2 separate regions of the Homo sapiens genome follow, and region 1 is linked to region 2. The links come from fine-mapping of genetic effects on gene expression. A gene starts in region 2. The other region holds a variant in brackets. All regions are shown on one strand. Distances are between the middles of the regions. Region 1 overlaps IGSF9 (immunoglobulin superfamily member 9). Region 2 holds the start of CFAP45 (cilia and flagella associated protein 45).

Region 1 (5,371 bases), 35 kb after region 2:
CCCAAAACCAGCTCCTATTTCTCTATTAAAGGGCCCGCCATCCTTCTTGCTGAAGTCTGCCTCCTCACGTTCCCTCACTCCCCCTGGTGAAATACTCACTAAGCCAGTCATCCTGGGAAGTCCCTTTTGTCAGAGCATGAGCCCATTCATCTTCATGTCCTCTGTAAATCAGACTCCATAACTCTCACCTGGGCCATTTCAGCAGCTTCAGAACCCCTCTTCCTATGTCCAGTATCTCCCGCTACATTCCACTGGGCAAGCTCAACCCCTGATCACAGCTCTGATCCTATCACACCAATGCTCAACAAATTCCAGTGGCTCCAACTGCCTGTAGACTTTTTTCTTAAATATTCAACAAAGATATACTGAGTACTATTGTTGTAGAAGCCCCAGGTACACTATGATGAAAAGATGCAATACTAGGCCTCAAAAATTTATAGTCTCTGCAGACAAAAGATCCCAATTGCCTTGGAATGAGGCAATAGTAACTTGGCATCCAGTTCTTCCTTTTGATGCTAACCTGTCTTTCCAGCTTTCTCTGCACCATTCATGTCCCTGCAGGCACTCCGGCTCCCACCCAATTGGACGATCCATGATTCCATAAACGTACTATACTACTTCCTGCCTCTTGACCCTGGTTTCTGCAAGGGAATGACTGTGTCCTCTTTGAGGCCCATCACCAAAGTCCCAGAATCTGTTGCTGGTCTATCCTCAACCACCCTAAGAGGAAGGCACGAGCTCCATCCCTGGCCTTCCAGACAGTGTTGCTGTCCTCTGCCCAGATGGTGCCCACTTTAAGGATGGATGCCTCCTTGCCCCTGCCCTCAACCCACTACCCCACACAGCACCTGGTAAGAAGTGTGTGTTCCCCCGGGACACACAATTTCCCAGTCATCACACGAAAGAAACTTCAGTTCTCCTTCTTGACTCTTTGCCATCATTTTCCCCAGAGATCATCTCTCTTCTTTCCCCAAAGAAGACACAAAACCACCACTTTAAACCATGGAAATTTTTCCTCAGGGGTTTTAAGTAGTTTCCTATGCAACATGTCTTATAACACAAATTAAATTCACAAAAGATGTGTGTCCCCAGTCACTGAACTGAATTAAACCGAGCTAACTCCACCCTGCTGTCCTGAGCAGAATAACGCCAAGCTAAGACCCTCCTTCCCCTGCCCCAAGCCTGTACCTTGTCCAGCTGCAGGGCCTTTCCATCCTTGGTCCAGCTGACAAAGAGCAGTGGGGGGTTGGCACGAACCGGGCAGCGGATCACCCCCGGCATGCCTATGGGCAGGGGTGTCTCAGGAGGCATAGCTGTCACCTGGGCTGGGTCTGGGGGAAAGTAGTGGCAAGTTGGGGGAGAGGGGCTTGGCCTGGCCCAGGGGAAGGGAGCAGGCTGAGGGAGAAGCTGGGGTCAGGCTTACAGAGCACAGTGAGGTAGGCAGAGGCTGAGGGTGGATGCAGGAGGCCATTGCTGGGCACACAGGTGTAGCAGCCGGCATCATCAGGCTGGGTGGCCAGCAGCCGCAGGCTCCCGTCCACCAGGATCCGCACCCGGGGCTGCAGGCGGCTGCAATGTGGCATGTGTGAGGAGGGGTCCAGGCCTTGCCCAGCCAAGCGGCTCTTCAGAGACTGTTTGTGAATTCCCCACCTCCACCTTCCTAATGAGGGTGACCCCACCTAATGTGGAAGACATTGATGTTGTCCTGGAACCAGCTGTAGGTGAGGTTAGCAGGGTATGCCTCAGCATGGCAGGCCAATGAAACATCCTGGGAGGCATTGACTGTGCTGTTCTTGGGGGGCACCACGATGACTGGGGGTCCTGTGGGATGCACAAGGGGAGGAAGGTGGCCTCAGCCCACAGTCTTCCCAGAACCCTGAGGTCACCTCTACAACTCTTCCCAGCTCTGCTCTCTGGAATCTTAGGGCTCGTTGTTACAGGGCTTTGGGGAGTGGAAGCAGAAGCTTCCCCCTGTATGTAACAAGAATTCATCCTCTCCCTGAGACCCATTCTTCTTTCCAAATTCTCTCTGTTCCATCAAGAGCAACTCCATTCATGCAGTTCCACTGCCTAGGAATGGTGTGTGTGTTTGGGGGAGTCAGTTTAACTCTGCTCATTTACCATTTGTATCCCTGCTTGTCACCTCTTGAATTACTTCTCTGTCTCTGGCCCTAACCCAGGTGCCCAATACCTCACCTCAAGATGCTGCAGCAGCCCCTGACTCCAGGCTCCCCTGCAGCTGCCACTCTAATGGCCATTCATACAGAAACAGCCCCTTGAGCCACAGAACACTTCTGCTCAGGAACCTGCAACAGCACCTGGCTCCTACTACACTAAGCTCAAACCCAGCCCTGTGGACCCCTGCGATCCAAACCCTCCCTACGTGGCCAGCCATCTTTCCATATGTCAGCCCTCATGAACTCTTTCAGGTCAGTATGGGCAGCTGGCTGTCCCCCATCTCCATGCCTTTGCTCCCTGCACCCCCGGTCTGGAATGCCCCTCCCAAGGGCCTGGCCGCGCCACATACCTCCTGCAAAAGCACCTCTGGCTAC[T/C]ACAGTTCCACTACTCCTTCCCCTCTCTGGGCCGGTACCGCATGAGCAGTCAGTAAGAAGAGGTCATGATGCGAGCTGACACAACAGAGCACTGACTGCATGCGGGACACTGAGTGCTAAGCACTTTACCTGCACGACCTCGTTTAATCCTCACCAAAAGCTTTGTGGTGGGAATTGTCTCCATTTTCTAGATGAAGAAGTGAAGGCTCAGAGGCAGAGAGATTGTGAGGTGATTGCCCAAGGACAGCAGGAGAGGCAACATTCATATTAGGCTTCCTGATGCCACAGACGACACCTTTAACCATTACCCGGCACTGCCTTTCTTACAGTACCACGGACAGCAACACTTCCCTGTTTCCCCAATTAGTCTCACTTCCCCACAAAGATAATAGGCTCTATGAAGGCACAGTCCAGGCCTTCTGCTTCTCAGTTTCCCTTCTAAAGGAAGGATCTTGGCCAGGAATTACCATGTGCCAGTGACTGGGCTCAGCTGCACCTAAGTAAATTCTTGTAACACACCTGAGAGGTAGAGATGAGTCTCTTTATAAAGATGAAGAAACTGGGACTCAAGGAGTTAACTGGCTCACAGCCTAACACAAGCACCCATGTCCTTTCCACTATAACACACTACTGGGCACTAAGATCGCTTTGTCTGCTTACTGAGCCTTTTAAAATTAAGGTGCTGGTTTCAGAGCAACAGCCTGCATTGGGAACCCCCTTAGCTTCCACGGGCCCTGCCCTCAGGCACAAATCTCCCTCCTATCTTGCTGTGAACCAATTCAGCCACAGGTCACAGCCCCCTTGCATAGGTAACCCTGGACCCCAGCCCTCCCGCCAGAGAGCACCTAGCACTAGCAGCTGGGTGGCGTGGGTGGCGCTGCCCTCAGTGCTGGAGGCTTGGCAGGTGTAGACCCCAGAGCTGCCTCGCTCTACCCGGCGGATCCGCAGCGTCCCGTTCTGCACCTAGGGAAGGAGTGGGTGAGGAAGAGTCCTTTCCCCTGCCAGCCTCAGATCCTGCACTTCCGAGTTTGGCCAGCAGAGGGAGGCAGCACCCCAGGCTCGGGGCAAACAATGCCAAGCCCTTCTTCTGGCCCATCCTCCAGCCTGGCCTTTGCCTCCTCTGTCCTCTGGCCCCACTGCCAGGCCCCCACCTTCCCTTCACACTCTATATGGCTCACTCTGTCCACCCCCAGGACTCACTTGCACCTGGCCCTGGCCCTGGCCAAGGTCCTTTCCTCGGAGCTTCCACGTCACATGAGGCAGGGGGCTGCCACGGGCCACACAACGCAGGGTCACAGGCTCCAGTTCCTGCACTTCCAACACAGCAGGAGGTGTCTCCTGGAATTGAGGGGGTGCTGCAAGGGAGACAGGCATCAGGGGCCCCAGTGGGGCTGTCAGCCCAAAAAGCAGTGTCCAAGGGCCAGGGAGACCACTCAGGGCTCCAGCCTGCTGCCCACCCACCAGCCCTGCCTCATAGGAGTCCTCAGCCCAGGGCCACCCTGTCTACTGCACCCAGGCCAAATGAGGATTCTGTCAACCCACCCCCACACACTGGCCTGGGGCTGAACCCAGGTTGGATGTCCAGAGCCTGGGGGAGAGCCAAGCCCCCTCAGGAGGAGCACTGTTCTGGGAGTGAGGAGGCCTGGGTCCTAGACTCTGCTCTGCCACTAATCAGTGGCATGACTCAGCCTCACCTATGCAATGGGAATGATTATGACCTCCTTCCTACTTAGGAGTGAGAGATAAATAATAAGGGCTTGGGTGAAAAGGTATTTTGAAAACACAAGGTGCTATATATATGTGAGCTGTGTTTCACTCAGGGCCCAAGAGCCCCTCTCTCCCACCCACTTCCCTGGCCAGGGAAGCAGGAGGGAAGAGAAAGAGGGAGTTCCTGACACCGAGCCTAGAAGGCTGATTGAATTTATATTTGAAGAACTGAAAAGGGCAGGAGTGTGGGGGAGGGGTGAGATGCAACTACTAAGTGAGCAAACAAGGGCTCTCAGGAAGGGTGGGGCATCAGAGCTGTTTGTGGGATGGAAATAGAACTCCCTCTTCCCCTTTCTCCCACCAGCCAGAGATCCCCATCCTCCTCCTCCCCGTCCTTCTCCACCACCTGCCCCCCAGCTTCATACAATTGACTGTCAGATGCACCCAGGAGCCGTTAGCAAAATCGTCTTCAGGGATGTGCTGGTCCAGGAAGAACACGCGGCACTCGTACCAGCCCTGGTCTTCCACCCGGAGACCCTCAATCTGGAGAGAGGCCCCCTTCTGCAGCCGGACTCGTCCTGGGGGAGGAGCCCTGAATCAAGGGTGCTGAAGGAACCCCATGGAAGCCCCAGTCCCCTGGTCACACTGGTAATTCTTAGAGGTAAGAACAGGCTCAGTCTCTCCCAGTTACTCTGAGTGTGGGGTCCAGAGAGACGCAGATGAGGTTGGGGTCATTCAGGACAGGTCCCTCCATTCGGCCCCTCTGACCACTCTTGCCATTCGACAGCTGGGACCCTGTCTAGACAAAGAGAAACCTAGGGGGACAGCAGGTGGACAAAACCTTCCCCTGAACTGCACTCGGTGTCTAGGACTGTTGGGGAAGGAAGTGAAGAGCCAGCATGTAGTCTCCTCTGGACTCTTACAGGATCTGTCCACCTCTGGGCTCTTTATGTAGGGGAAGGTGTGAGCTCCTGGGAGTACTCCTGATAGAGGACTGTTTCCCTGAAAACCTCAGCAGTGTTTGAGGCCCTAGCAGGGGGAACCCAGACCCCGCCTGCCAAAGCCCCTAATCCCTCAGGGCTATTATCAGCAGCCTAAGCGCCTTAGGGTGG
Region 2 (5,371 bases):
CACGCCACTGCACTCCAGCCTAGGCGACAGAGCAAGACTCCATCTCAAAAAGAAAAAGAAATGTAGAAGTACTCTTGTAAAGATGTTTGTATGGCAGGTATGTGCCCAGAATGTATTACTGAAAGCATGTTCAAAAAAATGTTTAACAGTATGTCAGGAACCTTTACCATCTTAAGATGTTTCTTTATTGAATAATTTCCTGCAATGAGTAGATACCAATTTTATGACCAGAAAAAAAAAACAATAAAACAATTTTTATTTGAAAACAAAGCATAGCAATGGGCCTGGTGCCCGAACTCTGAAAGCAAGAGAGTACAGACCTAAAAAAGAAAACAAACAAACAAACAAACAAAAAAACCATAGCATTATATATTCTGGGATCCAGAATGTTTCACTCAAATTCAGCAAGACAAAGCTGGAATGGGGCTAGAATAGGTCAGTGTGAAGTTTCCCTGATGTAACTTCAACACCTGTCAACTAAACAGGTTGACATGTTCAGGAAAGATATGTCTTTTCCTAGATGTCTTACCCATTCTGAGATCTAGTTCTTCTTTTGCACAGTCTCCGCAGGCTGGCAAATTCAGGCTTCAAACTCTTGGCCTGGTTCTACTTCCCTTTCTGTAGACTTTGGTTACCAAGAAAGGGAGATTCCCATGCACGAGACCCCTTGCCTTTTACTCTGAGTGATCCACGCAATTATCCTCTTTCTTCAATTGGGACCAAGTTGGCCATCTGTAGGATGCCACCAGAAGATAACATCCTAGTCAGTACTGAGGTCCCCATCTCTCCTTCTGCAGGATTTTAATCATTATTTTTGTAAGAGTTCTGGAAGTCTGCCTAATTGTGACCCTCACCACCACTACTATCTCTTCTCATGCCTTTAAATATTCTCCAAACCTAGTGAGTAGCACTATACGTACACGAACACACACAGCTGGCCTGCCAGAGATCACTAACTTAGACCCACTGCTTCTCAAAGGTGTCTATATGCCCAGTCCTGTCCCAGGAATTACAGAGGGGCTCAGTGAGTGAGTCAAACCCCTGCCCTGAGTGGCTCCTGGATGGGGAATCCCTGATCTGGGTGCTCTGAAGCCCACAGGTCTTGCCCAGGTGCAACTTATGCCCTATGAGAGCTTGGAAATAGGAAATTTTTAAAAGAGGACAAAAGGGGAACTAACATTTACCATATGCCCTTAGACACCAGGCATGACAGTAGGTGTTCACATACATACATACGCCACTGTGTTTGTAAGGTGCTGAGAGAAGATGGGACACTGAATCAAATAGAATACATAAGTGAAAGGGGACGCTCCCCCACCCCAATTACAACACTGCAGGGAGTCCTCGAAAGTCAGGAACTGCTCTTTGTTGGAGACTTATTTAATAATTAACAAAATTCTTCTGAGGTCCACTGAGCCCCAGAAAAGCAATGCAGCCCCTGGGCCTGAAGTCTGTCCACAAGTACATCCAAGTAGCAACCTTTGCCACCTGTTGTGCCCCAGACATTCTAGGTCAGTTCCAATAACCCAAGACTCCAACACTTATCATCTGCCCTTCCCCTCCCCTCTGGGACCAACACACTCAAGCCCAGGCATCCCCTTCATGGTTCCTCCCAGGCTTTGCTGGCCTTCTCAGCCCTCAGTACCCTGACAGCCCTCCCCATCCCAGCAAACCCCAGGCTGCCAGTCCTGTCCCAATCTCTCTCCCGGGCCTTGCAAACCTGAGACCCTCCTCACTCACTCACTCATTTATTCATTCATTCATTCACTGCCAAATATTTATTGACTAACTACTGAGGGATACAAAGCCCTGCTAACAGAAGAAAAACCTGAGGCTCGGGCACATTAGATGACTTACCCACAGTCACCTTGCTAGTTAGTGGCAAAACAGGTACCACGACCCATTATCTGGCCTCCTCACCAGTGCTTTTTTTTTTTTTTTTTTTTTTTGAGACGGAGTCTCGCTGTGTCGCCCAGGCTGGAGTGCAGTGGCGCGATCTCGGCTCACTGCAAGCTCCGCCTCCCGGGTTCACGCCATTCTCCTGCCTCAGCCTCCCGAGTAGCTGGGACTACAGGCGCCCGCCACCACGCCCGGCTAATTTTTTGTATTTTTAGTAGAGGCGGGGTTTCACTGTGTTAGCCAGGATGGTCTCGATCTCCTGACCTCATGATCCGCCCGCCTCTGCCTCCCAAAGTGCTGGGATTACAGGCGTAAGCCACCGCGCCCGGCCCACCAGTGCTTTTTCCCACACCACATCCACAATCTTTGGTCCACAGAGGCCCCGCTGTAATGGCAACGGGGAGAGGGTTGGGGCATCCCTTTCTCCCCAACTCCTCCGCTCAGCGCGCTCCACATTTCCAATCGTTATCGATGCTATCCCTAATTCCTCTTTTGAACCCACCTCAGGATCTCCCTTGCTTCTTCTAGAGGTGTTCTCCTTACTCCTGGGCCCTCCTGACCCCTAGACCCAACTGTGACCTCCCCTAGGCCCCCACTTTCCCCACTCAGAGCCCCCACCCAATTCAGGACACAAGGGGCCCATCTGAGGTTCTCCCTCACCATCTCCTCAGCCACACGCCCTGACTCCGGACTTCTGCTGCCGCCTCGGCGCCGCCAAGGCCCTAGTGTTGACGCGTTACCTTGGCAACCACTAGCCCGCGTTCTTCGGCTCAGGCCCCGCCCCCGGCCCCGCCCCTCCCACCTCCAGCGGGCAGTTGCCTTGTGCTGGTGGCTTAGGAACCGGAGCCCGTCGCTCCAACCGTTGCAGCTCCACGCTCCAGCCCAACCGCGGCTCTGAAGGATTGACCCGCCCTGGCGTGCCCTGCTCTCCACTTTGGCTTTGGCCAAACTTTTCGGTCAGAACCCGAACCTAAAGAACTTACTATGGGCCGAGGGGGTTCTAACTGTCAGCGGCCCCAGGAGCCTGGCCCAGGGTCACAGTTTTCCCCTGGGACTTCACCTAGGTTGCTATGATTACTCTTGCCCCATTGCCCAGGAGGCGCCAAGCCAACCCCTGATGAGTGTAGTCTGCAGAGAAGCCAGCAGGATCAGGACAAACCAGTTCCACAGCAGGAGAGAATCTGGTCGGGTCAACAAAGAACTTCCAGCCCTGAGGATGTCTATGCAGTCTCAAGAGCAGTTTCTTAAATTGCGGGCCTCAAATCTGCAGCTAAGAATCACCTGGGAGAGTTTATTAAAAATGGAGGCCCTACATTAGAATAAGTCAAAAGCTAAGGAACTGACTTTGGGGAGCTTGTCTTTTAACACTTCCTAGCTGGTATGTATTGTTCTAGAAAGTACATAGGGGTTTTGTCATTTTTTCCAATTTGGTTTGGCCTCTCTACCTCCCAACTTGCAGGGCTGGCACTGAGCTCACTTTGGTAGGCTGCATGCTCCAAGCCTCACGAAGCTGTCCCACCAGACCAAGGACATTTGTCTTCCTCCAGTGCTGATTAGCTGATTAGCTAAGCTCTTGGTGTGACTCTGTGAGTCTCTGAGCTGCTTTCTCAAACCTCTCTCCAAACCCTCACAGCCAGTCTTTCTGAAGCTCTTACTCCAACTTGGGCACTGAAGGCTATTCACAAGCCCCGGGGGAATGGAAAGAGGGAGACAAGGTCACTTCTTGCTGCTTTTAAAAGGACTTACTCCAACAGGCTTCACATTCCTTCCCTAGATTTCCCAGCCTTTATCTCCTTTGGGATCAAGAGTACAAAATTGTGTCCCCTGCCCAGTCCCACCAAGTGTTGAAGGCTTAATCAGAGGGAGAAGGGAAGGCCTGAAGAGGAGGAGCACAGTCCCTGGGAGGCTTGGGACTGAGAGAAGGGGCTGTTTTGTTCGTGGGAACCTTCCTTACTAAGCCTTGGCATTAGAACCCCGTTCCCTGCAGCTCAGAAAGAAGGGAAGACAAGTAACCGGCCCACTGTGAATAAGGTGCTTCCTGTATTCACCCCATTCTCCCAGGCACATCTGCATGACATAGTTACTATCCGTGTAACCAAAGAGGAAACAAGCCAAGAAAAAACTGTCCAAATTGAAAATCTATTCTTTTCTCAGCCCAGGGTAACTCTCTGAAGAAAAGGTGCAAAGTTGAGGCAGAAAGGGCTGGGCGCGGTGGCTCATGCCTGTAATCCCAGCACTTTGGGAGGCCAAGGTGGGCAGATCACGAGGTCAGGAGTTCGAGACCAGCCTGGCCGACATAGTGAAACCCCGTCTCTACTAAAAATACAAAAAATTAGCCGGGGGTGGTGGCAGGCACCTGTAATCCCAGCTACTCAGGAGGCTCAGGCAGGAGAATCACTTGAAGCCAGGAGGGGGAGATTGCAGTGAGCCAAGATCACTCCAGCCCAGGCAACAATGCAAGACTCTGTCTCAAAGAAAAATTAAAAAAGTTATGGCAGGAAGGAGGGAATGACAGAGTGCAGTGTAAGGGACTTGCCTCCCAGCAGGCAATTACATGCCTGTAATCCCAGTACTTTGGGAGCCCAAGGCAGGAGGATTGCTTACATCCAGGAGTTTGAGACCAGCCTGGGCAACATAGGGAGATCCCATCTCTACAAAAAATCAAAAATTAGCCAGGCATAGTGGTACATGCCAGTGGTCCCAGCTACTTGGGAGGCTGCACTAGGAGGGTCACTTGAGCCTCGGAGGTTGAGGCTGCTCTGAGCCATGATCGTGCCAATGCACCCAGCCTGGGTGACAAGAGTGAGACCCTGTCTTGAAAAATAAAATAAATAAAATACAATAAAAATTTATCTCAAAGCTAACAATGCTTAAGCTTCAGGCCTCTCATTTACGTAAGCACATGTCAAGGCTCAGAGAAGAACCCTTGGCCATGTGTCTACAGGCATACCTTGGAGATACTGCAGATTAGGCTTCAGAGCACTGCAATAAAACTAATATCACAATACAATGTGAGCAACACAAATTATTTGGTTTCCCAGTGCATAGGAAAGTTACATTTGCACTATACTGTAGTCTATCAGGTGTGCAATGGCATTATGTCTAAAAAAATGTGCATACCTTAATTTAAATATACTTTGTTGCTAAAAAGTGCTAACAATCATCTGAGTCTTCAGAGAGAGTCATCATCTTTCTGCTGGTGGAGGGTCTTGCCTCAGTGTTAATGGCTGCTAACTGATGAGGGTAGCACTTGCTGAAAGCAGAGGTGGCTGCAGCAGTTTCTTACAATATGACAACAGTGAAGGTTGCCACATCAGTTGACTCTTCCTTTCTTTTTTATTTTTTTTTCAGATGGAGTTTCACTCTTGTTGCCCAAGCTGAAGTGCAATGATGCGATCTCGGCTTACTGCAACCTCTGCCTCTCGGGTTCAAGATATTCTTCTGCCTCAGCCTCCAGAGTAGCTGGGATTAG

What was found. PIP is the estimated chance that this variant, and not a neighbour inherited with it, causes the effect.
Region 1: its variant is fine-mapped to the expression of CFAP45 in whole blood (TOPMed, PIP above 0.99).

The regions. Positions count from the first base shown.
Region 1 is chr1:159,933,002-159,938,372 of GRCh38, forward strand. IGSF9 (immunoglobulin superfamily member 9) reads right to left here. Exons shown (of 21, transcript NM_001135050.2): 4 at 4,685-4,837; 5 at 3,753-3,907; 6 at 3,398-3,515; 7 at 1,680-1,821; 8 at 1,424-1,569; 9 at 1,189-1,331. Among named protein-coding and RNA genes, the nearest start is that of IGSF9, 9.9 kb to the right of the region's middle. RefSeq lists an enhancer at 1,977-2,477. The variant T/C (reference allele first, on the strand shown) is at 2,553.
Region 2 is chr1:159,897,537-159,902,907 of GRCh38, forward strand. CFAP45 (cilia and flagella associated protein 45) reads right to left here and starts at 2,629. Exons shown (of 12, transcript NM_012337.3): 1 at 2,560-2,629. The coding sequence starts at 2,562. It overlaps MIR4259 (microRNA 4259), which reads right to left and starts at 2,543; the gene lies at 2,443-2,543. It overlaps LOC124904435 (a long non-coding RNA gene), which reads left to right and starts at 2,714. Exons shown (of 3, transcript XR_007066679.1): 1 at 2,714-3,277; 2 at 5,251-5,371.